3 separate regions of the Homo sapiens genome follow, and regions 2 and 3 are each linked to region 1. Evidence: fine-mapped expression QTL. A gene starts in region 1. Each other region holds a variant in brackets. All regions are shown on one strand. Distances are from middle to middle. Region 1 holds the start of CA5B (carbonic anhydrase 5B). Region 2 overlaps CA5B (carbonic anhydrase 5B). Region 3 overlaps VEGFD (vascular endothelial growth factor D).

Region 1 (8,183 bases):
GAGGCGGGTGGATCAAGAGGTCAGGAGTTCCAGACCAGCCTGGCCAAGATGGTGAAACCTCGTCTAGAGATTTTTGTCTAAAAATACAAAAATGAGCCAGGCGTGGTGGCGGGCGCCTGTACTCGGGAGGCTGAGGCAGAGAATTGCTTGAACCCAGGAGGCAGAGGTTGCAGTGAGCTGAGATCGTGCCACTGCACTCCAGCCTGGGCGACACAGCAAGACACTGTCTCAAAAAAAAACAAACAAACAAAATCCCCCACAAACCTGTCATGAGAAACAGGGAAGGGAAAGATGATGGCAGGTCATACCTCTAATCAAATGGGATTTTTTTTTTTTTTTTTTTTTGAGACAGGGTCTCCGGGTCAGGTGCAGAGGCTCACGCCTGTAATCCCAGCACTTTAGGAGGCCGAGGAGGGTGGATCACTTGATGGCAGGAGTCCCAGACCAGCCTGGCCAACATAGCAAAACCCCATCTCCACTAAAAGTACAAAAATTAGCCGTGCATGGTGGTGCAAGCCTATAAGCCCAGCTACTCGGGAGGCTGAGGCAGGAGAATCACTTGAACCCAGGAGGCGGAGGTTGCAGTGAGCCGAGATTGTGCCGCTGCACTCCAGCCTAGGTGACAGGGCGAGACTCCGTCTCAAAAAAAAAAGAAAAAGAAAAACAGAACGAGATGGGGTCTCTGTCACCCACGCTGGAGTGCAGTGGCACGATCTTGGCTCACTGTACCCTCCGCCTCCCACGCTCAAGTGATTATCCCACCTCAGCCTCCCAAGTAGCTGGGACCACAGGCGTACCACCACGTCCAGCTAATTTTTGTATTTTTGGTAGAGACGGGGTTTCGCCATGTTGTCCAGGCTGGTCTCGAACTCCTGGCCTCAAACGATCCACCCGCCTCAGCCTCCCAAAGTGCTGGGATTACAGGCGTACAGGCGTGAGCCATGGCGCCCAGCCCTCTAATCATATTGGATTTAAGGTGTCAATGGGATAGCTGAGAGGAAAGGTCTAGGAGAGAGTTGGCAACACAGCTCTGGTGCTCAGGAGCAGTCAGGAAGCTACAGATAGAAAGAGAATCCCCTCCTCCCAGCAGTTACAGGTATATCAAGGGAGACTCACAAAAAGGAGCCATGAAGGATGCTGAGACTGAGAACGGTCAAAGGCAATCAAGGAAGGCGCAGAGCTTGGAAGATCCAGGTGAGGAGGTTCCAGGAAAATCCAAGTAAACAGAAATTCAATTTAGCTAATGCTTGATTGCAATACCTATAACAATACATGAGGTTATTTTTGTTCAGGCCTAAGGTCTATCCTCTCTGTTAAATTAGAAGTTATAGTTTTTTAAGAGTTGGTTATTTAAACTTACTCACTGCATTCATAAAACCCAAGTTTGTGAAACCAAAAATAATGTTTAACCAGCAAACACAGCACATATCAACTAATACCATACATTACTGTATTTCAGGGAGAATCTGTCCGTACATAAGTTTGTCCATAAAGATGGGTCCCTGGGCTCGATGGACTACAGGGGAGCTTTCTGTGTTATATACTCTTTGCCATCACTGATGATTTATGTATATCCTTGGATTTTGCTAACCTGCCCCTTAGCTGTTTTCCAGACTTAGAAATGCGTGGAAACAAAGATTTTGAAAGCCCTCAATGAGTCATTCATAAATCTTGTATTTATTAAATGACAAGCAGCTTGAACTCTGCCTGATTAAGCCATTCATATGTAGGCAAAACAGACAGAAAAAAAAGAATGTACTCTGACTAAAGGTTACAATTACATTGGAAAAAAATTCCTTCATTTTCAACAGATGGACCCTTCCTTTGATCACCACCTGATTTCAAAAGGCAACAAGCCTTTTTGCAATTCCCTGAAATCTAAATTAGAGATTATGCTGCGATATCTTGACTGAGAAAGCTCAGCTTCCCCCTCTCACCCACTTCTTCCCTGGGAGCATGATCCCAATGTGTGGTAGCCAAAGGTTTCAGAATATGTTTCTAATAACTGCTCTTTGTGCTGCAATTAATTGCCCAGTGCCACCAATCAGATGAAATGCATTTTCCCCTTTCCGTCAAATTTCCCAAATATTCATATTCATTCATTCACTCACAATTCACTCAACCTTTACTGCGTTCCAATTGTGAGTGGTTGCAGCTTTTTGCCTGGCTCCAGGGAGAAGAGGGCAGGTGTGTACAGGCACAGAGAACGGTGCCCTTGCTGCTTTTGGCATTTCAGTGAATTCCAACCCTGATGCTGAGGTTAAAAAAAAAAAAAAACCTCAGTAAAAAATATTCCTAGAAAGCTTTACGGTTTTCCACTTCCAACATACCCAAGAAGAGTGGCCACTCCTGAGAGATGTGCAGGGACAATTCAAGGGTATGCTCTGGGGCAGCTTCTCTCACCACAGAAATAGCACTACTTGTCTCCATACTCTAGCAAGACTTTTAAACAGCAGAGTGATGGCCAGATTATCAGTAAAGGAAGAATGGGAAGCAGAAAGCAACGCGGTTTTCAGTGGCTAGGAGAGAACAAGTTCTTTTCAAACTAAGTTGTACACATCAACTCCCCTTATCTCTCAAACTTTCCCAGCGAAAATACACAGGAGGGAAGGGCACTGACATCAATATTAACCAATTGCCACAAGCCTCGGGGCAGAAGCATTTAACATTGAATGCCACAAGAATCACGAAAACCAACAAGGTTTGTATTTGGAGGTTCCTCTCCTTCAGCTTTAGGGCTGAGCACAAAACAAAAAGGCCAGAAGAAAGAACTGCAGGGTGAAGAAAGCTCAGATTTGCCCGCATGGCACAGTTGTGATGCTGATACCCTGTCTTGGGGGTGAGTGGCTGTGAGTCTCTCCACAGCCCCTAGCATAGTGGGTGGTGCGGATACAATGCAGATCTGAGGGAGTTCCAGTTTACTGAGCCTCGGTTTCTGGAACCGCAACCTCAGATTTGTCGCCCTTACCCCCGTCTCTAGCTATTTCACAGAAGGCTGGACTTTCTGGAGTTATTTGGATTCAACCAACCTTGGCAACCCTACCTACCAAGGAACTGCTCTCCCGCGCCCCCACCCCCTTTTCTCTGGAACAGCTGTTATCGCGTCCTGTGCAAAGAACCTTAAAGGATGACAGCCGTTTGGTAACTCCCATAGTGGAGGAAGAGGGCTGGGGTGGGGGAGTTCGACACCCCATTAGGCCCCACTCAGTACTCCCGGGCGCCCTGCCGGGACCCAGACAATACTCGCAGGATCAACAGCTCTCCTAGCTCCGGAACCCGGTGCGCCAGAGCGGAGAGTCGTGGGAAGAATCACGGCCCTGTCTGGATCGGCCTGTCCCTGGTCGCCCCCCACTCCTCTCGGCCACCCGTCCTTACCTGAGCGTCTCTCCAGATCACGAACCTAGCCGCTCGCTCGCCTACGGGGATCCGCAGCCTGCACGTCCGGCCATCGAAGCTACGCCCCCTCGTGCCCTGTTACGCCCCACATACCAGGGCCACGCCCCTCAATGGAGGCCACGCCCCCACCTGGCAGATCCACGCCCCACTACGTCCGTACTTATTGCCCCGGTCACGCCCAACCAAACTGTGCCAGTCTCTGCCCTCCACCCTGGCCACACCCCTTTAGCTACAGCCACGCCCCTCTCGCCCGGGCCACGCCCCCATTCACCCCTGCTCCCTCCTAGCCCCGCCTCTGCGCTCCCCCTGGGCTCTTCCCTCTAGCCTGGGCCACGCCTCTGAGCCCTGCTCTGGCCCCGCCCCCGCCGGACCAATCCTCCCTCCTCCTGCTCGCCGCTGGCCGCATTAGTGGATTGAAACTAGACCTGGGGCTTCAGAGCCTTATCTAAAAAGTGACTTTCCCTCGGTTCCTCCCATCTCCAAACACCACGACTTTATGTGCTGGGAACAGGTGACTCAGTAGGGAAACAAACACTGAACGTGTCCTTTCCCGCTAGTTTTCATGTCCAATTTACCCGAGTTTCTTTGAGCCAGTTTTTATGTCCTCTGAACTCGAACTGTGGACCCGTGTTCCTTCCAGCCCAATTTTCATATCCTCTAAAGCAGAACTGTGGATGTGTTCCTTCTAGCCTCTTAGCCGACCTTAAATACTAGGCAGATGAGTGGAAAAAACAGAATTCCTCTACTTCCTGATGTCTCCTTCAGATGGGCTTTCCTAAGCACCCAGTGCCCCGTTGCTGCTGAGGGCGTGTGAAGACATCACCCCCACTTTGTGCTTTGAGATTACTCTGCTATCCTTCTTCCCTCAATTTACAACTCTGGGTCCACGTGAAAAATATGAAGAAGCTATAACCAGCTTTCTTCCCCTGTGTACATAAATCTCTGACTCATTCATGCAAATTTCATTTATTGAGTACATGCTCCCCTGACAAACAAGACAAGCCTCAAGAAGCTTACAGTCTGAAGTTGCCCCAACTTGGGTTTGGATGAGAAAATTGGGGAAGATGTGGCAAAAGGTTAATAGGTGGAAAAGGAGTTGGTAATCTCAGGTCATTAGTAGGAATATTTGGGGGTAGTAAACATAGGAAGCCACTTTTATAGTATTTAGTACATTTCTTTACACAATAAATTATCAAAAAATCTTCACTGAATATCTACTCTTCCACATGTATAGAAATATATAATTTCCCCCCTTTGTAGAAGTAAAATTTGCTACTTATATTGCTTCATATGCCAACAATAAAGATTTTACTATCACACAGTTCTTTTTTCTTCTCCTCCCTTGCATTTCTGGCTTGAAGACAGTGAGAATATTCAAAATGTTGGGCTAGAAGGAACACAGAGAAAAGAACAACTTTCAACAGAACACTTTCATTATGCTCGCCCTGACCCTGAGAACTCTGCCTCATTTATAAAATGTTTCAACTGTCAGTCATTTTTTGCCTGAAAAATGAATTCACAGAAATTGGTCCAAATACAGTCTATATAAATTACTGAGTTTATTTTTATACAAGTAGTTCTACTTCACCTTCTTCCACAAATGATTTGAGGCAGCGTCCTAAAATATAGACATTAGTAGATTTAAAAATAGGGGAAGGAACCAGTGAAAGGAGAGCTTAATGGAAGGAGAATGATGTGGCCAATGATAAGATTAACATTTAAGTTTGCACTCCATCAGATCCAGAACAGTTGTCAGAAGTAGGCCAGAAATTTGACCCTAACTAAGCTGTTGAATAGCCATAGAAAAGAGGAAATAGCAATCATTTTTAGGTTTTTACTGTTCATAAGATAAAAACTGGCTTTTTTTCTTTTCCCTTTTTTTTTTTTTTTTTTTTGAGACAGAGTTTTGCACTTGTTGCCCAGGCTGGAGTGCAATGGCGCGATCTCAGCTCACTGCAACCTTCGGCCCTCAGGTTCAAGCGATTCTCCTGCCTCAGCCTCCTGAGTAGCTGGAATTACAGGCATGCACCATCATGCCCGGCTAATTTTGTATTTTTAGTAGAGATGGGGTTTCTCCATGTTGGTCAGGCTGGTCTTGAACTCCCGACCTCAGGTGATCCACCCGCCTCGGCCTCCCAAAGTGCTGGGATTACAGGTGTGAGCCACTGCACCCGGCCTTTTTTTTTTTTTTTTTTTTTTTAATGGAATTTCACTCTTGTTGCCCAGGCTGGAGTGCAATGGCATGATCTCGGCTCACTGCAACCTCTGCCTCCCGGGTTCAAGTGATTCTCCTGCCTCAGCCTCCCAAATAGCTGGGATTACAGGCGCCCGCCACCATGCCCAGCTAATTTTTGTATTTTTAGTAGAGACGGGGTTTCACCATGCTGGCCAGGCTGGTCTCGAACTCCTGGCCTCAGGTGATCCACTTGCCTCAGCCTCCCAAAGTGCTGGGATTACAGGCGGGAGCCACCGTGCCCGGCTGTTTTGTTTTTATAGAAGCAGTTTTTCTTGAATTTTAGTCCTGAGAGAAATACAGTTTCCTCATAAAGATGATGTAGTGAGCCTAGTGGGAACTATGTGTCATAAGGAGTGACACCCAAATCCCCTCAATGGAAACTGTTGGCACAATCACAAAGCACAGTGCATTAAATCAATTCTATGAATTGGCCAGGCATAGTGGCTCAGGCCTGTAATCCCAGTAGTTTGGGAGGCTGAGGCAGGAGGATTGCATGAGCCCACGAGTTAGAGACCGGCCTGGACAACATGGTGAAGCCCCATCTCTACAAAATTAGCTGAGTGTGGTGATGTATGCTTGTAGTCCCAGCTACTTGGGAGGCTGAAGTGAGAGGATCATCTGAGCCTAGGGAGGCTGAGGCTGCAGTGAGCCGTGATCACACCACGGCATTACAGCCTGGGCAACAGACTGAGACCCTGTATCAAAAAAAAAAAAAATTCCATGAACCATCAACATATTTCTGTTCACTTGAATACACAAGCCCTCAATGGTCTGGCTTAATCCAGGGTAGCATTTAGATCATCTTTCCCCAGGATGGCAAATAGGTTTCAACTCACATGTTAACTCTGAACTATTTGTAGTAGCTGCCTGAATAACTATGTTGAGAAGTTTGGGGGCTTTGTCCAGGCTCAGAAAGAAAAAGTTCTGTACTCAGTTAACAATGCTGTGGGTGCAGGATAGGTAAGTGGCTGCATGCAATAACCTACCTGGTACCTCTGCTTTGTAGAAATAGAGGTCTTGCATGCAGAACTTTGTGCAGTCACTCAAAATCAACAATTCTCGTGGCCAGGCGCAGCAGCTCATGCCTGTAATCCCAGCACTTTGGGAGGCTGAGGCGGGCAGATCACCTGAGGTCAGGAGTTTGAGACCAGCCTGACCAACCTGGAGAAACCCCATCTCTACGAAAAATAGAAGATTATCCAGGCATGGTGGCACATGCCTGTAATCCCAGCTACTAGGGAGGCTGAGGCAGGAGAATTGCTTGAACCTGGGAGGCAGAGGTTGCAGTGAGCCGAGATTGCACCATTGCACTCCCGGCTGGGCAACAACAGCGAAACTCCGTCTCAAAAATAAATAAATAAATAAATAATTTCTCACCACAGGGTTTTTGATAAATACCAGAGTGTAGAGAGTTCCAGGTCCCTTTCTCACTCTGATCCACCTATACTGGTCTTCCCATGTTCATTCCTGTCTCTGAACATTTTCTTTTGTTGTTCCCATTGTTTGGACCACTCTTTACTCGGATCTTTACATGGCTGGAGTTTTCTCATTATTCAGTACTTAGCTAAAATGTCACCTCTTTAGATATGTTTTTCCTGACAACCATATCTGAAGTTGTATCCAGAGCCTCTCAATCTGCACTGTGCCCAGAGATCACCCGAAGATCATGTTACAATGCAGACTCTGATGCAGTGGTTCCGCGATGTGACTTGAGATTCTAGATTTCAAGCATGCTGCCAGGAGATGCAATCCTGAGGTTCTATAAGACACTCTGAGGCTGGCACGGTGGCTCATGCCTATAATCCCAGCACTTTGGGAGACCGAGGCAGGCAGATCACCTGAGGTCAGGAGTTCGAGACTGGCCTGGCCAACATGGCGAAACACTGTCTCTACTAAAAATACAAAAATTAGCTAGGCGCGGTGGTGGGCACCTGTAATCTCAGCTACTCAGGAAGATGAGGCAGGAGAATCACTTGAACCCAGGAGGCGGAGGTTGCAGTGAGCCGAGATCACGCCATTGCACTCCAGCCTGGGTGAGAGCGAGACTTCGTCTCAAAACAAAACAAAACAAAACAAAACAAAAAGACACTTTGAGTAACAGCTTCACCTCTCCATCTCTATTACCTATTTTATTTTCTTCATAGTGTTTCTCAGTATTTGAAATTATTTGATTATTTGTTGGTTGGTTGTTTACTATAATGTAAATTCCCTAAGAGCAGGGACTCTGACCAATTTGCCCAACTTTGTACTCCTGGCAGTTAACACAGTACCTGGGGCATCAGCAAATACCCTTTAAATATTGCTAAATGAATAATTTTATGATTCATTAATTCCTTTATCTGTTCAGTGACTGCTTAGTTATATGCCAGGAACTAAACTATAAATGATAGAAGGCAGTGCTACTCAAGTGCTAGCCTATGAACTGCTAGGTACTCTGGTTCAAGCTGAGATAAGCTTGAACTAGAATGTAAAATCTGATATGTCATTAAACACAGTGGTTATTTAGGATGTCATATTTTTTCTTTTTTCTTTTTTTTTTTTTTTTTGAGAC
Region 2 (8,183 bases), 37 kb before region 1:
TTTTCTTTATTTATCTTTATAGGGTTATAGAGTTAAGGTTATTTAACCTTTATAGGGTTATTTATCTAACTTTGTCTTTCTTAATTTTTTTTATCTTTATCTATATCTGGTGTGGTTTGGCCCTGTGTCCCTACCCAAATCTCACGTCGAATTGTAATCCCCCTGTGTCAGGGGAGGGGATCATGAGGGTGGATTTCCTCCTTACTGTTCTCGTGATAGTGAAAGAGTTCTCATGAGATCTGACGGTTTAAAAGTGTGTGGCACTTCCCCCATCTCTCTCTCTCTCTTCTGCCACCATGTGAAGAAGGTCCTTGCTTCCCTTTTGCCTTCTGCCATGATTTTAAGTTTCCTGAGGCCTCCCAGTCATGCTTCCTGTTAAGCCTGTGGAACTATGAGTCAATTAAACCTCCTTTCTTCATAAATTACCCAGTTTCAGGTAGTTCTTTATAGGAGTGTGAAAATGGACTAATACAATATATATCCTATTGGTTCTGTTTCTCTGGAGAACGCTAATATACTTCCCTTGATTGATCTCTTTATCCATGTGCCAGGAACACGCTATTTAATTATTGAGGCTTTATAACTTTGTGAGTCTAATTATCCCGTATTTTTCTAGAATTTTCCCTGGCTATTTATGTGTTTGTCTTTATTCATGAGTTTAGAAATAGCATATCAATTTAAAAATCCTATTGGCATATTTATTGGGAATACATAAATTTATGGTGAATAAATAATTCATGGAGAATGACAACTTAGGTTGTCATTTATGACAAAAAAAGGTGTTTTTATGTCTTTTGATCCTATAATGTGTTAACTTTATTAATTCAAGCCTTCTTTTGTATCCTCCAGGAACATTTTAAGTTTTCTTATTAGCTTTCCTTGTTAAAATTATTCCGAAGTATTTTATATTTTTGTTTCCATTATAAATAGGAGCCTTTCTTACATTATATCTTTATATCATATCTTTTAGCTGATTGTGATTTATATATGTCAAATGTATTGATTTCTAGAAATTGATATTGTATTCCACTGATTACCAAATTATCTCTGATTTTTGTAGTCGTTTTTTATTGTTTCTCTAATTTATTTTTTATTTTCCAGTCTAACTGTACTGGCTACTTCCAGAATGTAATTTAATATAAAACTTAATACGGTAACAATCCTTTCCATTCAAAACCTACTATTTGCTTTTGAACTGAGATCAATCTCTTTTATCAAGATAGGGAAGTCTCTATTCAGCTCTGTTTTATTAAAAATTTTCAAAAACTGAATGGTGATTTTTACAAATGTCTTTTTAACTTCCCTGGAAATGATAATATGATTTTTCTATTTAGATCCACTGATAGAATGAATTACATTAATATCATTCTTAACATGAACCATACTTGTATTACTGGAGTAAAAGCTACTTGGACAAAGTGTATATTTCTTCTGATGTACTGCTGGATTCTGTTTCTAATATTTTCTTTTTAGCTTTTTTTTCTTTTATATTCTTCAGAGGGGGGTCCAATCTTTGGTGAGTGTTGGTATCAGTTATGCTGGCTTCATAAAAAGAATTTGGAAGCTTTTTTTCTTATGAAAATGCTTTATAATCAATAAAAATCCCATAAAACAAGTATGAGTAAATATTATTGTAGTTTATATTATACATTATACAGGATTTTGAGTGTTTGCATAGTAAATACTACTTAGACTTAGTTTCTAAGGGAAAAATAGATCCCAAATTCAAAAAATGGACTTACATTAAAGTTTCTGGACAAACATTGTTGAATTCTGTATTTATCCTGAGATTCCATAGCAGAATTCCCTTAAGGATTTTAAACAGTTTTGAACACATTCATTTCCAGCCTTCACTCTTCCCTTTAAAAGGGTCTTGATTTTGTATAGAGTTTAATATTTATATATAAAATACACAAGGCATAAGAAGACATATGTAATTGTCAAATATAAATGTAAAAAACTTATGTTCTTCTGTGTTTTAACTCTTCTCTCTAGTTAATTTGAAACATCCCCAAATTCATGTCCAAACTGAGACAAGACGTTGGTACACTTCAATAAAAATGTATAAGCATTACAAGATGTTAAAACTGATGCCACAGTCTGAGCCCAGCCTTGTTTTACATGGGCAGACAAGGATTTCCTTAGATTGAAATTATGGAGAGAACATACCTGATCATGATCAACCTCTACTGGTTGCTTCTTAATGATCCAGGTGACAGACTCGGAGAGGGGTGGGGTAGTCAGAGACCCTGAGTAGGTCCAGTAATCTGGGCAGGTAGGCATCAGGCAGGAAGGGTCAAATGACCCAAATTCCACAAGGGCGTCCTGGCCAAGAGAAGAGATAACCGAGTCATTATTTAGTAGTGAAAACCACTCAGGAATTGGACGCCGAGGTGACGGTTCTCAGGGAGTATCTGGAGATCAGCAGTGGTCCAGAGCAGCTCCAGGCCTTTCTGGGCAGCTACCTGAAGAATCGCTGCTTAGGATGGTATCATGCCTGGCTTTGTTTCTGGAATTAACTGTGCATTTTTTATATTCCCCTGTGGGAAAACGGCCAAAACCACTTGATCTCTCAATTCTAGTGAGGTTCCAGCAGGTAGTCTCCTCTGAGTTTTGTTGAGAGGTTTTAGACAGCGGCCAGTGCATAAAGAAAGAGGCTTTGCATTTTCTTTTCTTTTTTCTTTTTTTTTTTTTTTTTTTGAGACAGAGTCTCGCTCTGTCGCCCAGGCTAGAGTGCAGTGGTGCAATCTCGGCTCACTGCAAGCTCCGCCTCCCGGGTTCACGCCATTCTCCTGCCTCAGCCTCCCAAGTAGCTGGGACTACAGGCGCCCGCCACCATGCCCGGCGAATTTTTTGTATTTTTTAGGAGAGATGGGGTTTCACTGTGTTAGCCAGGACAGTCTCGATCTCCTGACCTCGTGATCCGCCAGCCTCGGCCTCCCAAAGTGCTGTGATTACAGGCGTGAGCCACTGCGCCCGGTTGGAGGCTTTGCATTTTCGAGAGGCTAACTGAGAATTGTCCTTTTAAGAAGAAATGCAGCTCAGGAGGAGCCAGAAACCTGAACTAAAAGGAAAGAGAGGGAAAAACAGGAAAATGGAGATGAGAGGAGAGGGAAAGAGGTAGGGACCAGAAGGTCAGAGTGGGGGATGGGGGGAGATAATATACGGGCTTCCAGAGAGGAAAGGAGAGGGAAAGAGGTGGGGACCAGAGGGATACAGTGGGGGATGAGAGGGAGAAGAAGAGAATATATGGGCCTCCAGAGAGCAGCCCTTTGAGATTCTGAATATTGAAGAATTAATATTGGGGGACTGGACAAAGGCATCCGACCTGAAGGATGTGGATTACTGTTCTTTCTAGCTGGACAAGGCAAGTTTCTGTAGAACTGC[G/T]CTCTGCTCCCTGCCTGTGGGATGGCAGCTACAGAACAGAAGGCTGCTCTGGGTGTGTTCACAAGGACTTAGAAGGAGCCGGTGTCAGGAACAGAGGAGGGGACAGCAATATGTTCCTGAGTCCCCAAGTCCTCAGCGGCACTGCAGCAAAACCAGAAAGCTCACTGCCTACCCACAGAATGATGACTTCTGTCCCCTGGAATCATAAATGGCAAGTTTTCTTCTAAGGCTGAATACAGTTCACCTAATTAAACTTCCCAATTCAAAGTGCCTTGGTAATGTCTCCGCTCTGAGATTGAAACATAAAAGTATATTTCAAGTAATTAAGGAAAACAAATAGTACCTTATGCTTAATTGACGGCAAAGTATCCACTAATTTCTGTAGCTCCTTATGATGTTTGCCTAGCTAAAGAACAACAAGTAAGAAAATATTACAAACAATGGACATCTCACTGTAGAAACTGTAACAGAATGTGAATTAAAATTAACTACCTGGTGATTACATAAAAACAAACTGCATGACTGAAATTACACTTAAACTTGTAATTTATAATTTTATAAACATTACTGAATTAAATTAGAGAACAAATCAGCAGGCTGTTTGCTGACAAGGTCAGCATGCCTGCAGTGAAAGGTGCCCCCTGCTTCATTTAAGTTCTTAAATTGAAATTAAAATTAAATAAAATGAAAAATGGTTCCAGAACTGCAGTAGACACATTTCAAGTGCTCAATTGCCACATGTGGCTTGTGACCACTCTATTGGGCTGTGCATTTTTATATCATTTAAAATATATATATTTTTTTGGTGGTGGGGGGGATGGAGTCTCGCTCTGTTGCCCAGGCTGGAGTGCAGTGGCACAATCTTGGCTTACTGCAGCCTCCACCTCCCAGGCTCAAGCAAGCGATCCTCCTGCCTCAGCCTCCCGAGTAGCTAGGATTACAGGTGCGCACCACTATGCCTGGCTAATTTTTGTATTTTTAGTAGAAACAGGGTTTCCCCATGGAAGCCAGGCTGGTCTCGAACTCCTGACCTCAAGTGATCTGCCTGCCTCGGCCTCCCAAAGTGCTGGGATTACAGGCGTGAGCCACCATGCCTGGCCCTAAAATATATTCTTAACAATCCTGTACTTCAAGCACTATTTATCTTACCAATGTATGGATCCCAACATTCTTAAAGTAAATAACAATATTATACTGTTCTATCTTTTCATCCTAGAATACAACACGTCATTTAAAGTTGGTGAGATATTTTACCTTTAAAAATACTCCTATCACAGCCAAACCATTTTCTTCCAGTGCTGCATCCTCAAAGTTTTCAAATCTGACTGCGTTCCAATGCACTAAGTGCAGCTGAAACACCATGAAAAGAGGGTTAACACGTGACTATACAGAATCTCTCCAGAATAAACCCACAGCCTCAGTCAACCTATGACATTTAAACATGTTTCCTCACCCAAAGTAAAGCCACCAAGAAAACCATATGACAATCCAAAATGAGATAGAAACAAAGATCAGGAAGAAATTTAGGCAAGAGCAGCAATTAATATTATTTTAGAATAAAGGGATTTATTTGGGGAGAAAAATAGAAAATTCATATAACAAAGTGACACTTCAGTGAGCAATCAACATTTGTCCAGTCCCATCTTGATTTGAATGAAATACCAATATTCGAAATCCACTTGCATCTACAGGAGAGAAGATGTTTATATTGAGAGAAATAGATCCTCCATATGGAAATTATGCAGGAGTTAAAGACAAATTTCTTCTTCAAGGAATAACCATTTAAAATGTGCTTTTAGGCTGGGTGTGGTGGCTCACACCTGTAATCTCAGCATTTTGGGAGGTCAAGGTGGGAGAATCACTTGAATCCAGCAGTATGAGACCAGCCTGGACGACATAGTGAAACCTTGTCTCTACAAAAAAATTTAAAAATTAGCAGGGCAGGCCGGGCGCGGTGGCTCACGCCTGTAATCCCAGCACTTTGGGAGGCCGAGGTGGGTGGATCACAAGGTCAGGAGATCGAGACCATCCTGGCTAACACGGTGAAACTCCATCTCTACTAAAAATACAAAAAATTAGCTGGGCGCAGTGGTGGGCGCTTGTAGTCCCAGCTACTTGGGGGGCTGAGACAGGAGAATGGTGTGAACCCGGGAGGCAGAGCTTGCAGTGAGCCAAGATCACGCCACTGCACTCCAGCCTGGGCGACAGAGCAAAACTCTGTCCCAAAAAAAAAAAAAAAAAAAAAAAAATTAGCAGGGCATGGTGATGTGCGCCTGTTGTCTTGAGGTGGGAGGATTGCTTAAGGTCGAGGCTGCAGTGAACCGTGATTGTGCCACTGCACTCCAGCCTGGGTGACAGAGTGAGACCCTGTCTCACAAAGCAAAATAAAATGAAACAAATATAAAAAATATAAAATAAATTTTTAAATGGGCTTTTTTTACATAACATTTACAATTGAATTAGGAAAAAAGTTGTAAGAAGAAATTCTATTTCCTTAAAATCTCCCTTTATTTCCCTACAAATCATTCCTCATTCATCAGTTATGAGTGCATTATCACCCAGCCTCCCAAGTGAGACACCACAAAGTCGTGGTTAACCTTGCCTTCTCCTATCCTGAAGAGAACCCTACCTTCAAGTCCTGTTGCTTTAATTTCAGAAATGCTTGATAAATCTTGCCCTTTTTCTCTATTTCTATTGCCACAGCCTTCATTTAGGCTCCCACCACCGCAAACTTGCATTAATTCAACCTGTGGCTCCACAATGTTCCCTGGGTTATTACTTTGGGCTACTATTTGAGTCCACTTTCGAATTCCAGAAGAATTCAGTTTCAGGATCTTAAGGTTCATTTCAACTATATTATTTGAGATGAGAGAAGTTAACATTTTTACATGTCTTAGCTGAGAATGATCAAAACTGCCTGAGAAAGCTATTTAGCATTTATAGGAATCACCTGATTCTAATAATGTCTTACAACTAAAAGTTCAGAATTATCCCCACTTCTCTACAGTTGTCACTGTTCCTGACCTTCTCAACATACCTCTGCTGGGAAGCATTTGCTGTCCACGGTGTGCTCAGAACCCCAGGCATCGATGGCCCCCCAGTGAAAATGGAACTGCTTCAATCGGTAGTTGTGTTCCAGGGGTCCTCCCTTGATCACTAAAATGGCACATCCAACAATTCAGGGAAGAGTTATTTGTGCAGTGGAGGAATGTGGGTGAAAGGCCAAATCTCCAATGGACCCTCCATGTGAACTGTCTTAAATGGATTACACTGAATTATATACAAGTGATTATAAATTTGATTTTCATGAAGTCAATGCACGTATAAGGACAAGACCAAATAACATCAAGATTTAACTACATAACAAGCTACAAACAATTGTTAAAGGCCAACTCTTGACTTAATTTTATATCCTATATTATTGTGTCCAGTTTTCTTTTGTGTGCAATAAAATGCAAATTTCTCTCAGCACATTTATCCAACATGACTTTATAATACTGAAATATGGGGATAAAAGGATCTTTCTTTTTTTATGCACAGACACTTTGCTTTTCAAGTTTTGAAGATACTAGTGTTGCTTTCCCTTTCATTGAAATGGAATAGGACATTTGCAAGTCAAAAATGATCACCTGGGAGATGTTGGTCAAAAGGTACAAAGTTTCAGTTAGGAAGAATATGTTTTCAAGATTTATTGCACAGCATGGTGACCATAGTTGATAATAATCTATTGCACATTTCAAAATTACTAAAAGAGTAACAGTAGATTTTCTCGCTACAAAAAAAAAAATGGTAAGCATGTGAGGTGATGGATATTTTCATTGCTTGATATAATCATTCCACAATGCATACATATATCAAAAGATTACATTGTACCTGGTAAATGTATACAAATATGTCAATTGAAAAAACACACTGGCCGGGCCTGGTGGCTCACACCTGTAATCCCAACACTTTGGGAGGCTGAAGCGGGTGGCTCATCTGAGGTCAGGAATTTGAGATCAGCCTGGCCAACATGGTGAAACCCCATGTCTACTAAAAATTAAAAAAAAAAAAAAAAATTAGCTGGGCGTGGTGGCCCATGCCTGTAGTCCCAGCTACTCAGGTGGCTGAGGCACAAGAATCACTTGAACCCAGGAGGCGGAGGTTGCGGTGAGCTGAGATCGTGCCACTGCACTCCAGCCTGAGTGACAGACCGAGACTCTGTCGCAAACACACACACACACACACAAATTATTACCAATATATTATAGGCAAAATATTGACAAGTGTTTTTTTTTTTTTGAAACAGGGTCTTAGTCTGTCGCCCAAGCTGGAGTGCAGTGGCACAATGTCGGCTCACTGCAACCTCTGCCTCCTGGGCTCAAGCCATCCTCCTACCTCAGTCTCCTGAGTAGTTGGGACTACAGACGTGCATCACCATGCCAGGCTTTTTTTTTTTTTTTTTTTTGTAGAGATGAGGTTTTGTCATGTTGCTCAGGCTTGTCTTGAACTCCTGAGCTCAAGAGATCCACCCATCTCAGCCTCCCAAAGTGCTGGGATTACAGGCAGTTGAGCCACTGCGGCTGGCCCAGATAAGATGTTTTTGGCCGGGCACGGTGGCTCATGCCTGTAATCCTAGCACTTTGGGAGGCTGAGGCGGGCGGATCATGAGGTCAGGAGATCAAGACCATCCTGGCTAACATGGTGAAACCCCGTCTCTGCTAAAAATAAAAAAAAATTAGCTGGGCATGGTGGCGGGTGCCTGTAGTCCCAGCTCCTCGGGAGGCTGACGCAGGAGAATGGTGTGAACCTGGGAG
Region 3 (8,183 bases), 390 kb after region 1:
TGGACAGCCCAGCTCAAGAGCATCAACTCATTAGTTCAGGTTTTACCCTATAGAACCATGTAAAACAAATCTAATTCTTTCTCCATGTGACTCATGTTCTAAAAGTGTTAGAAAATTTTTGTGGGGTTGGCCGGGAATGGTGGCTCATGCCTGTAATCCTAGCACTTTGGGAGGCCGAGATGGGAGGATCACTTGAGGTTGGGAGTTTGAAAACCAGCCGGGCCGGCCGGGCGCGGTGGCTCACGCCTGTAGTCCCAGCACTTTGGGAGGCCGAGGCGGGCGGATCACGAGGTCAGGAGATTGAGACCATCCTGGCTAAAACGGTGAAACCCCGTCTCTACTAAAAATACAAAAAAAAAATTAGCCGGGCGTAGTGGCGGGCGCCTGTAGTCCCAGCTACTTGGGAGGCTGAGGCAGGAGAATGGCGTGAACCCGGGAGGCGGAGCTTGCAGTGAGCCGAGATCCCGCCACTGCACTCCAGCCTGGGCAACAGAGCGAGACTCCGTCTCAAAAAAAGAAAAAAAAAAAAAAGAAAACCAGCCGGGCCAACATGGCGAAATCCCATCTCTACTACTACTAAAAAAAAAAAAAAAAAAAAAAAAAAAAAAAAAAAAATAGCTGGGCATGGTGATGTGCGCCTGTAGTCCCAGCTACTCAGGAGGCTGAGGCATGAGAATCTCTTGAACCTGGGAGGCAGAGGTTGCAGTGAGCCGAGGTCATGCCACCGCACTCGGGCCTGGATGACAGAGTGAGACTCTGCCTCCAAAAAAAGAAAGAAAGAAAGAAAGAGAGAAAGAGAAAAAGAAAAGAAAAGAAAGAGAGAGAGAGAGAAAGAAAGAAAGAAAAGAAAAGAAAGAGAGAGAAAGAAAGAAAGAAAAGAAAGAAAAAGAAAGGAAGGAAGGAAGGATAGAAAGAAAGAAAGAGAAAGAAAGTAAGTTACTGTGGGAAGGGCAATATACTTAGAGCTTAAAGGCTCTAGCTGAGGATTTCCTGGCACAAAGCCTCTGAGACAGTTTTGTACGGAGGAGGTTTGTAGGCAGGCACAAGGCATTAAAGGGTAAAGAGAGAGGCAGCAGACCACAGCGCAGTTGCTAAGAGGCATCAGCCTAAGCCAATGGGAAGTTGAAGCTGGGAACCCCTGCGGGGGTAAGTCTTAAATCTAGGTGAAGAGGCTGAGCCCTGTAGACCGTTCATTGGCTGCCTTGGAGAGGGGATGTAGCCTTAGGAGAGGCAGCTTATTTCTGCTGGAGATAATTCTTGGGAAGGCACTCAGCCAGTACACGTGTGTAGAGGGTGGTAAGAAGAATAGGGAAGAAGAGAAGTGCTGTTCTAAGCAGCGGGTATATGAGCACTCAGGGCTGGAGGTGAGAGAACATACTGGAAGAAGTTCAGCATGGTGGGGATATAATGGGTGGGGACATAATGGGGAAGGGGCTGGTTAGATGTGAGAGAAGAAGCTGGACAGGCTCACAGGGGCAAAGCAGAAGGACCTTGTAATTCTTGCATGGGAGCTTGGATGTGATACTAAGGACAAAGGGAAACCACACAACTGGCTAAAGCAGGAGAGTGACAGTACCCATTAGAATTTTAACAAAATCATATCAGCAACAGTGTAGAAGAGGATGTGTTGACTCGGGGCAGGGAAGGAGGCAGGAAACCTTTTGGGAAGTTGTAGCAATGATGTAAGTGAGAGGCGCAGGGTGGACTGGATCACAATTGTTTCTCATTCTCATCTCCTATAAGTCCCCAATGTGGATCAAGTTCACATTCATTTCTCCAGTGGCCCCATCAAATTGATGGGATTTACTGAGCTTACTGCTCACTATACTTTTTTTCCGCACATGTGACTGTTAAGCCAACTGCCTTTTCTACAGTGACTTCTCTTGCCCAGATGAGCACATTTAGGTTAGTGAATCCAAGTCTAATTTAATTGAGTCTTGTTAGAGTCAGGTCATTGCTCTAAATTGTTAAAACAAACGATATACACAAACACACACACACACAAAAGAATAAATTGAGGAGGTCCCAATTCTGTATTTTAAAATACTTAATATATCCCTTCCTTCTTGAAGAGAGCTACAATTTCAAGAATTTATTTTGAAAAAATTCTATCAGTTTATTGATAAAAATGGTAAAAGGAACAAAGCTGAGAACAGAACATATCATCAGACTCTCTAGGGACGGAAATCAATACATAATACTTCAAGATATCACCCTCAGCTACTTGCTGTTCCACCACCAGTTCTCTTGCATCCAGTTTTTGTTTCTTTTAACTTGGCTATAAGGATGTGAGCACAGACTCTGCCAAACAGCCTGCTGAAGTTCTGCAAACACCTTGTGGATTGTGTTTCCCTGAACAACCCTGTCCAACAATGGCCTTGGGCCTGTCTGAAGTATTCTTAGTGAACTTCTGCTGCCACCTAGTGATCATTGCGAATTTTTAAAAAGCCTCTTTATCCTTTAACAAGTTACTCTTGTCTTACCCCAAAGCGGCATCTGCCTCACTGGCATATGACTTACAGAGCTCACATTTTCCCTCTCCACAAAGTTCAAAATGGAGACTTCTCAGATTTAGCCTTCCAGCACCCATTCTCAAACGTCGTGCATTACAGAAAAGTTTAAACTATAAAGTTGAACCGCACGAGATTCTCATTTTGATATGTCATTAAAGTCAGATATTGGCAAGAACATATGGTTTAACCCAATGGCTTGGAATGCTGGATGGGATTCCCAGAAGCTCCATACATCGGCCTGCTTCAGGACCCTTTTATTACACCAAATAAACCCAACAAACATCCATCGAGTGCCTATTTTATATCAGAACAATGAGACCTGCTCCTTCTCCTTCAGGACATTTTACTTAATGGGGGAAACATACAAGTAAACAGACAAATGTAATCAGTGCAAGAAAGAATCGGACAGCAATATGCACAGGATAAGGACACTTAGCTAAACCTGCAGACATTGGGAAAGATGTCAGGGAAAAGGGATGGCAGAAGGAAAGACAAGGCCAAAGGCATGGGACTGGGAGGCACTGGAATATCAGGGCAACAGAAAGTGCTGTCATTTGGTATAAATGGAACACACAGGATATATGAAAGCAAGAAACAGAAGATGAGTCTGTGAGGTTACTATGATCCAGTTCATGGAGGGCCTTGTATGTCCTGGTGGGAAAATTGGTTTTTATTGTGGGAAGGGAACCTTTTAATGCATTCAAAGCAGTGGAATGAAGTGATTTGGTTTGCATTTGTTAATCATGTGAAGAAGAATAGGTTGGAGGGATAAAACTTGTGGTGGTGAGATGAGTGACAGAGCGACAGCCATCTACAAAAGAAACACAAGGTACAGACTGAATTGTGGGAGTGGTAGTGGGGATGGAAAATAAAGAACAAATTTAGAGAGGCAGAACTGAGTGGACATGATGCTCAGACTTACCAGAGCAGGTGAGTCAAGAATGATGTCACCATTCCCTAAATGAGGCAAACTGGGAGAGAAGCAGATTTGGGGAGAAAACTACTAAACATGTACGTCCCTCCAAAACCTTCAAGAATGCTAAAGGGACAGAGTCAAGTTCTTCCAAAGTTTCTGTCTCTTCCATTTATTTTGCAATGAATTTCAACTTGTTAATCAGAAATG[G/A]ATTTGGAGTAGTAGCTATTCAATTGTTTTATACACCTTCTAGAAGAAATATTTGTCAGATGAGTATGTCAAAAACTTCTCAGACCCTCCCCTTTACTTGAATGTATCTTCCAGCAGATGTTGGTGGAATCAAAGTTCATTATTACTCCTATATCTTTTATACTAGTGTTATGATCTGCAGTGAGGACATGCATTGCTATTGCTACGCCTGGCCTGGAATGTCTGAGGTGTATTTCTACAACACCAATTATTTTGTGTGTCTCTCCTTTTAATCTCCACCAAAAAATGGAGACAGCTAGATTCATAACCCTTAGACATCCTATATTTTATTACTAATACTTGGTTGTGGAAGTTTGCATTCTAAACAAGTCATCAACATAAAAATCTCTAAAAATATTTTATGAAAAATATTCAGCTTATGATATTTTAAAAATCACAAACCTAAGAAAACACACAAACCTGTGTTTGTATTGTGAAATCAGAGGTTAATCTTCCTCACCCTGTGAAAAAATTAGGGGCATAAATCTATAGGAAGGAGATTGGGTGAATCCAAGTTACTTACGGATGACATAAAAGATACAATCAACTTTGGTGATCCAATTGCCACACTACAACTATCTGACCAACACGTTTCTGTTTCTCTTTAGACCACTCTCATCTCCAGGAACCAGCTCTCTGTGGGCCACACATGATGTTTGACGAAGATCGTTGCGAGTGTGTCTGTAAAACACCATGTCCCAAAGATCTAATCCAGCACCCCAAAAACTGCAGTTGCTTTGAGTGCAAAGAAAGTCTGGAGACCTGCTGCCAGAAGCACAAGCTATTTCACCCAGACACCTGCAGGTAAATGCCTTGAGTTGTCTTGCCTTTACTCATGACATTTAACGTAGATGCCATTTTAATTTGGTGGGATTCCTTAGTAAGCTAATTTTTCCCCTTGGTGCCTGAGTCCCTTTTGGATAATAGAACAGAGGTTTAGCAGCTAAGGAATAAGCAAGAGTATACCGAGTCATGATTAATCATGAAAATAAGAAAATCAATCCTGCCTGTTATTATGTGTGTAGAGCTTTTTTTTTTTAGACGGAGTCTCGCTCTGTCTCCAGGCTGGAGTGCAGTGGCGTGATCTGGGCTCACTGCAACCTCCGTCTCTCTGGTTCAAGGGAGTCTCCTGCCTCAGCCTCCCAAGTAGCTGGGATTACAGGCACGTGCCACCACACCCAGCTAATTTTTGTATTTCAGTAGAGACGGGGTTTCACCATGTTGGCCAGGATAGTCTTGATCTCCTGACCTCATGATCCACCCGTCTCGGCCTCCCAAAGTGCTGGGATTACAGGCATGAGCCACCGCGCCCACCCGGGGTTTAGAGCTCTTAAACAACAATGAAATTGGTAAAATTTAAGCAGTTATTAGGATATTGCTTAATAATAATATTTTAGGAAGGGGAGGTTTCAGATCATCAACCTGTTTAGTTCAATCTCTCATTGTTTATGTCTATATATGTTTGTTTTTTTCTTTAATGGAGGGAATATCATTGGATTTATATAGCAAGTAATTTATTCATGAATAGAACACTTGGAGGTTACTGATTCACTTCAGTAGATTTTGAATCCATGTGGGATAACCATGCAGGATTTTATACTGACATTTTAAATACATGTCTGGAAAACTTAATCAAATCAGAGCAGAGTTATTCTTTTGAATCCAGTCATTGATTCTGAATTCTCATCTTTATTTTCTTTTGCAACAGCTGTGAGGACAGATGCCCCTTTCATACCAGACCATGTGCAAGTGGCAAAACAGCATGTGCAAAGCATTGCCGCTTTCCAAAGGAGAAAAGGGCTGCCCAGGGGCCCCACAGCCGAAAGAATCCTTGATTCAGCGTTCCAAGTTCCCCATCCCTGTCATTTTTAACAGCATGCTGCTTTGCCAAGTTGCTGTCACTGTTTTTTTCCCAGGTGTTAAAAAAAAAATCCATTTTACACAGCACCACAGTGAATCCAGACCAACCTTCCATTCACACCAGCTAAGGAGTCCCTGGTTCATTGATGGATGTCTTCTAGCTGCAGATGCCTCTGCGCACCAAGGAATGGAGAGGAGGGGACCCATGTAATCCTTTTGTTTAGTTTTGTTTTTGTTTTTTGGTGAATGAGAAAGGTGTGCTGGTCATGGAATGGCAGGTGTCATATGACTGATTACTCAGAGCAGATGAGGAAAACTGTAGTCTCTGAGTCCTTTGCTAATCGCAACTCTTGTGAATTATTCTGATTCTTTTTTATGCAGAATTTGATTCGTATGATCAGTACTGACTTTCTGATTACTGTCCAGCTTATAGTCTTCCAGTTTAATGAACTACCATCTGATGTTTCATATTTAAGTGTATTTAAAGAAAATAAACACCATTATTCAAGCCATATAATTTTATGTTATTTAATATGCTTCCACTCTATATTTATGCTAAAGAAAAAGTGTTTTAAAGAAAGAAAGGAATTTCAAAGTGGAAGGTGCAGGAAGAGACACAAACACTGGACCTCAGTTTTGGGAAACCAAGGGAATAGCTCTCAGAAAGGTTAAGATCCTAAATGAGGCTAAGCAAATGTGACCCAAGAATCCACTGCGAATCACTCTGTGCCTTGAGATTAAATTGAACTTGACCTGATCCCCATCCCATGGCAGAGGGGAACCCATCCATGCCCTTGACCTCTTTGAGAGTTTGCATTTCTTCTAGCCACCTCTGGCTCCAAGTTTCTGCACTTACTCAAATCTCAGTGTCATGGACACCCCAACTCTCATGGCAACACAGTTCTTCTCTCTGTTCTACAGCTATCACTTTTTGTTTTGTTTTGTTTTGTTTTTTGTTTTGTTTTTTTTTTAGACGGAGTCTCACTCTGTCGCCAGGCTGGAGTGCAGTGGTGCGATCTTGGCTCACTGCAACCTCTGCCTCCCAGGTTCAAGTGATTCTCCTGCCTCAGCCTCCCGAGTAGCTGGGTCTACAGATGCACACCACCACGCCCAGCTAATTTTTGTATTTTTAGTAGAGACGGGGTTTCACCGTGTTGGCCAGGATGGTCTCAAGCTCTTGACCTTGTGATCCACCCTCCTCAGCCTCCCAAAGTGCTAGGATTACAGGCATGAGCCAGCGCGCCCGGCCACATAAAGCCTTTTTCCTCAAAGTACTCCTACATCTAATTTGTTAATGATGTAGACTTTATTGAAATTTTGCCATAACAGAGAGAATTTAGCAGCATTAGCAGATTTAAGTTATGTATTAAATAACTTAAAATTAATCCCTGCATAGTATCTTGCATAGATAGATATGTATATAGACACACACAACCCATTATGGTACTTACAACACATTTGTGTAAATAGTAGTGTTCCTGTTTATCTCCCCACCATACTGTGACCTCATTATGATTGGAAACGGTGTCCTGATCAAATTTGTGTAACCCAACTTTCTCAGGCCAGAACACCCTGGAACAGTACAATCAAAAGGAGAAAGACAATGATAAACAATGGAATAGTAAACAAATGTAGCCCCATGGTAGTGGCATTGTTTGATCCTGGCCCAAATCCCTACCCTTCCTCTGCCAGGGTTTCTAAGCAGTTCCTGAATTCTCCCTTCATTCACTGAAATTCTCTGAAGCCTGGGGCTCCAGGTCCTTTGATGCTTCCCTGGCTTTAACTCTCAGTCCCTGCCCTGGGGACATGAGCTAACCTTCACCTGGCCTTGGAACCACTCCCCACTGTGCTGCCATTGTCATTGCTCTTGTCATTTACTGGTGCCAACCCAGTCACTCCTCTTTTGCCACTGTTCTTTTTGCCCTCACTTTATGACCTTGATGTCAACAGGCTTCTTCCTTCTCATTTTACTGTATTTTTAATCAGGCTTCTGAAAATGCTTGCACATAACTTAGTTTTTTAAAACATACTTGGCATTCGACTCTTTGCTTTGCCTTTTCGTTCAGTTTCTACCACTCCCAACTTCTCCATGATATTTGCTTAAATTCCTTTGAGATCTGGGGCAGAAGACAATTCAAGGATACCACACAATTAAAGGAGTTACTTTGCTTATCCTCGACTGGTAAAAAGAGGGGATGTATCACTAAGGAGAAAAGACCTGAATTTAAGGACAGACTCTGCCACCTAAACACATTGTAAGCCTGAACAATGTCATCGAGCCTCAGTTTTCTCATCTGTCAAATGTAAATGATAATCTCATTTCCCTAAATCTCAGAATTGATAATTTCATTAGAGTTACGATTAGTGAAAAAAAAAAATTGAACAATACAATGTACCTTATAGCTCAAAGGAATTATTCTGAAGGAAAAAAGCAAGACTGAGCAAATCTCAGAAGCTTGGGACCTCTGAGATGTTCTTGGCTTATACTGGATCCTTGGATCTGTCCTAAAACCAACTCAAACCATGTTTTGGCTCGAAATGCCTCTGGCTTCATAATTGCCATTTAGATGGAGATTATCATAGGGAATTCTAAGCTAAGCCAAAACTCAATGTGATCTGGCTTTGTGCTTCTAAAACCCCTCCCTCTT

The links.
Region 2: its variant is fine-mapped to the expression of CA5B in whole blood (TOPMed, PIP above 0.99). The same link has a PIP of 0.9 or more in blood mononuclear cells.
Region 3: its variant is fine-mapped to the expression of CA5B in spleen (GTEx, PIP 0.93).

Annotation. Positions count from the first base shown.
Region 1 is chrX:15,733,545-15,741,727 of GRCh38, reverse strand. CA5B (carbonic anhydrase 5B) reads right to left here and starts at 3,458. Exons shown (of 8, transcript NM_007220.4): 1 at 3,376-3,458. All of the region lies in intron 4 of CA5BP1-CA5B (CA5BP1-CA5B readthrough), which reads right to left. RefSeq lists a silencer at 3,494-3,793.
Region 2 is chrX:15,770,856-15,779,038 of GRCh38, reverse strand. CA5B (carbonic anhydrase 5B) reads right to left here. Exons shown (of 8, transcript NM_007220.4): 4 at 6,425-6,543; 5 at 4,642-4,737; 6 at 3,731-3,793; 7 at 2,170-2,325. CA5BP1-CA5B (CA5BP1-CA5B readthrough) reads right to left here. Exons shown (of 12, transcript NR_160544.1): 8 at 6,425-6,543; 9 at 4,642-4,737; 10 at 3,731-3,793; 11 at 2,170-2,325. Among named protein-coding and RNA genes, the nearest start is that of INE2, 13 kb to the left of the region's middle. The variant G/T (reference allele first, on the strand shown) is at 3,388.
Region 3 is chrX:15,343,460-15,351,642 of GRCh38, reverse strand. VEGFD (vascular endothelial growth factor D) reads left to right here. Exons shown (of 7, transcript NM_004469.5): 6 at 4,284-4,479; 7 at 5,384-6,047. The coding sequence ends at 5,510. PIR-FIGF (PIR-FIGF readthrough) reads left to right here. Exons shown (of 15, transcript NR_037859.2): 14 at 4,284-4,479; 15 at 5,384-6,052. Among named protein-coding and RNA genes, the nearest start is that of PIGA, 12 kb to the right of the region's middle. The variant G/A (reference allele first, on the strand shown) is at 3,637.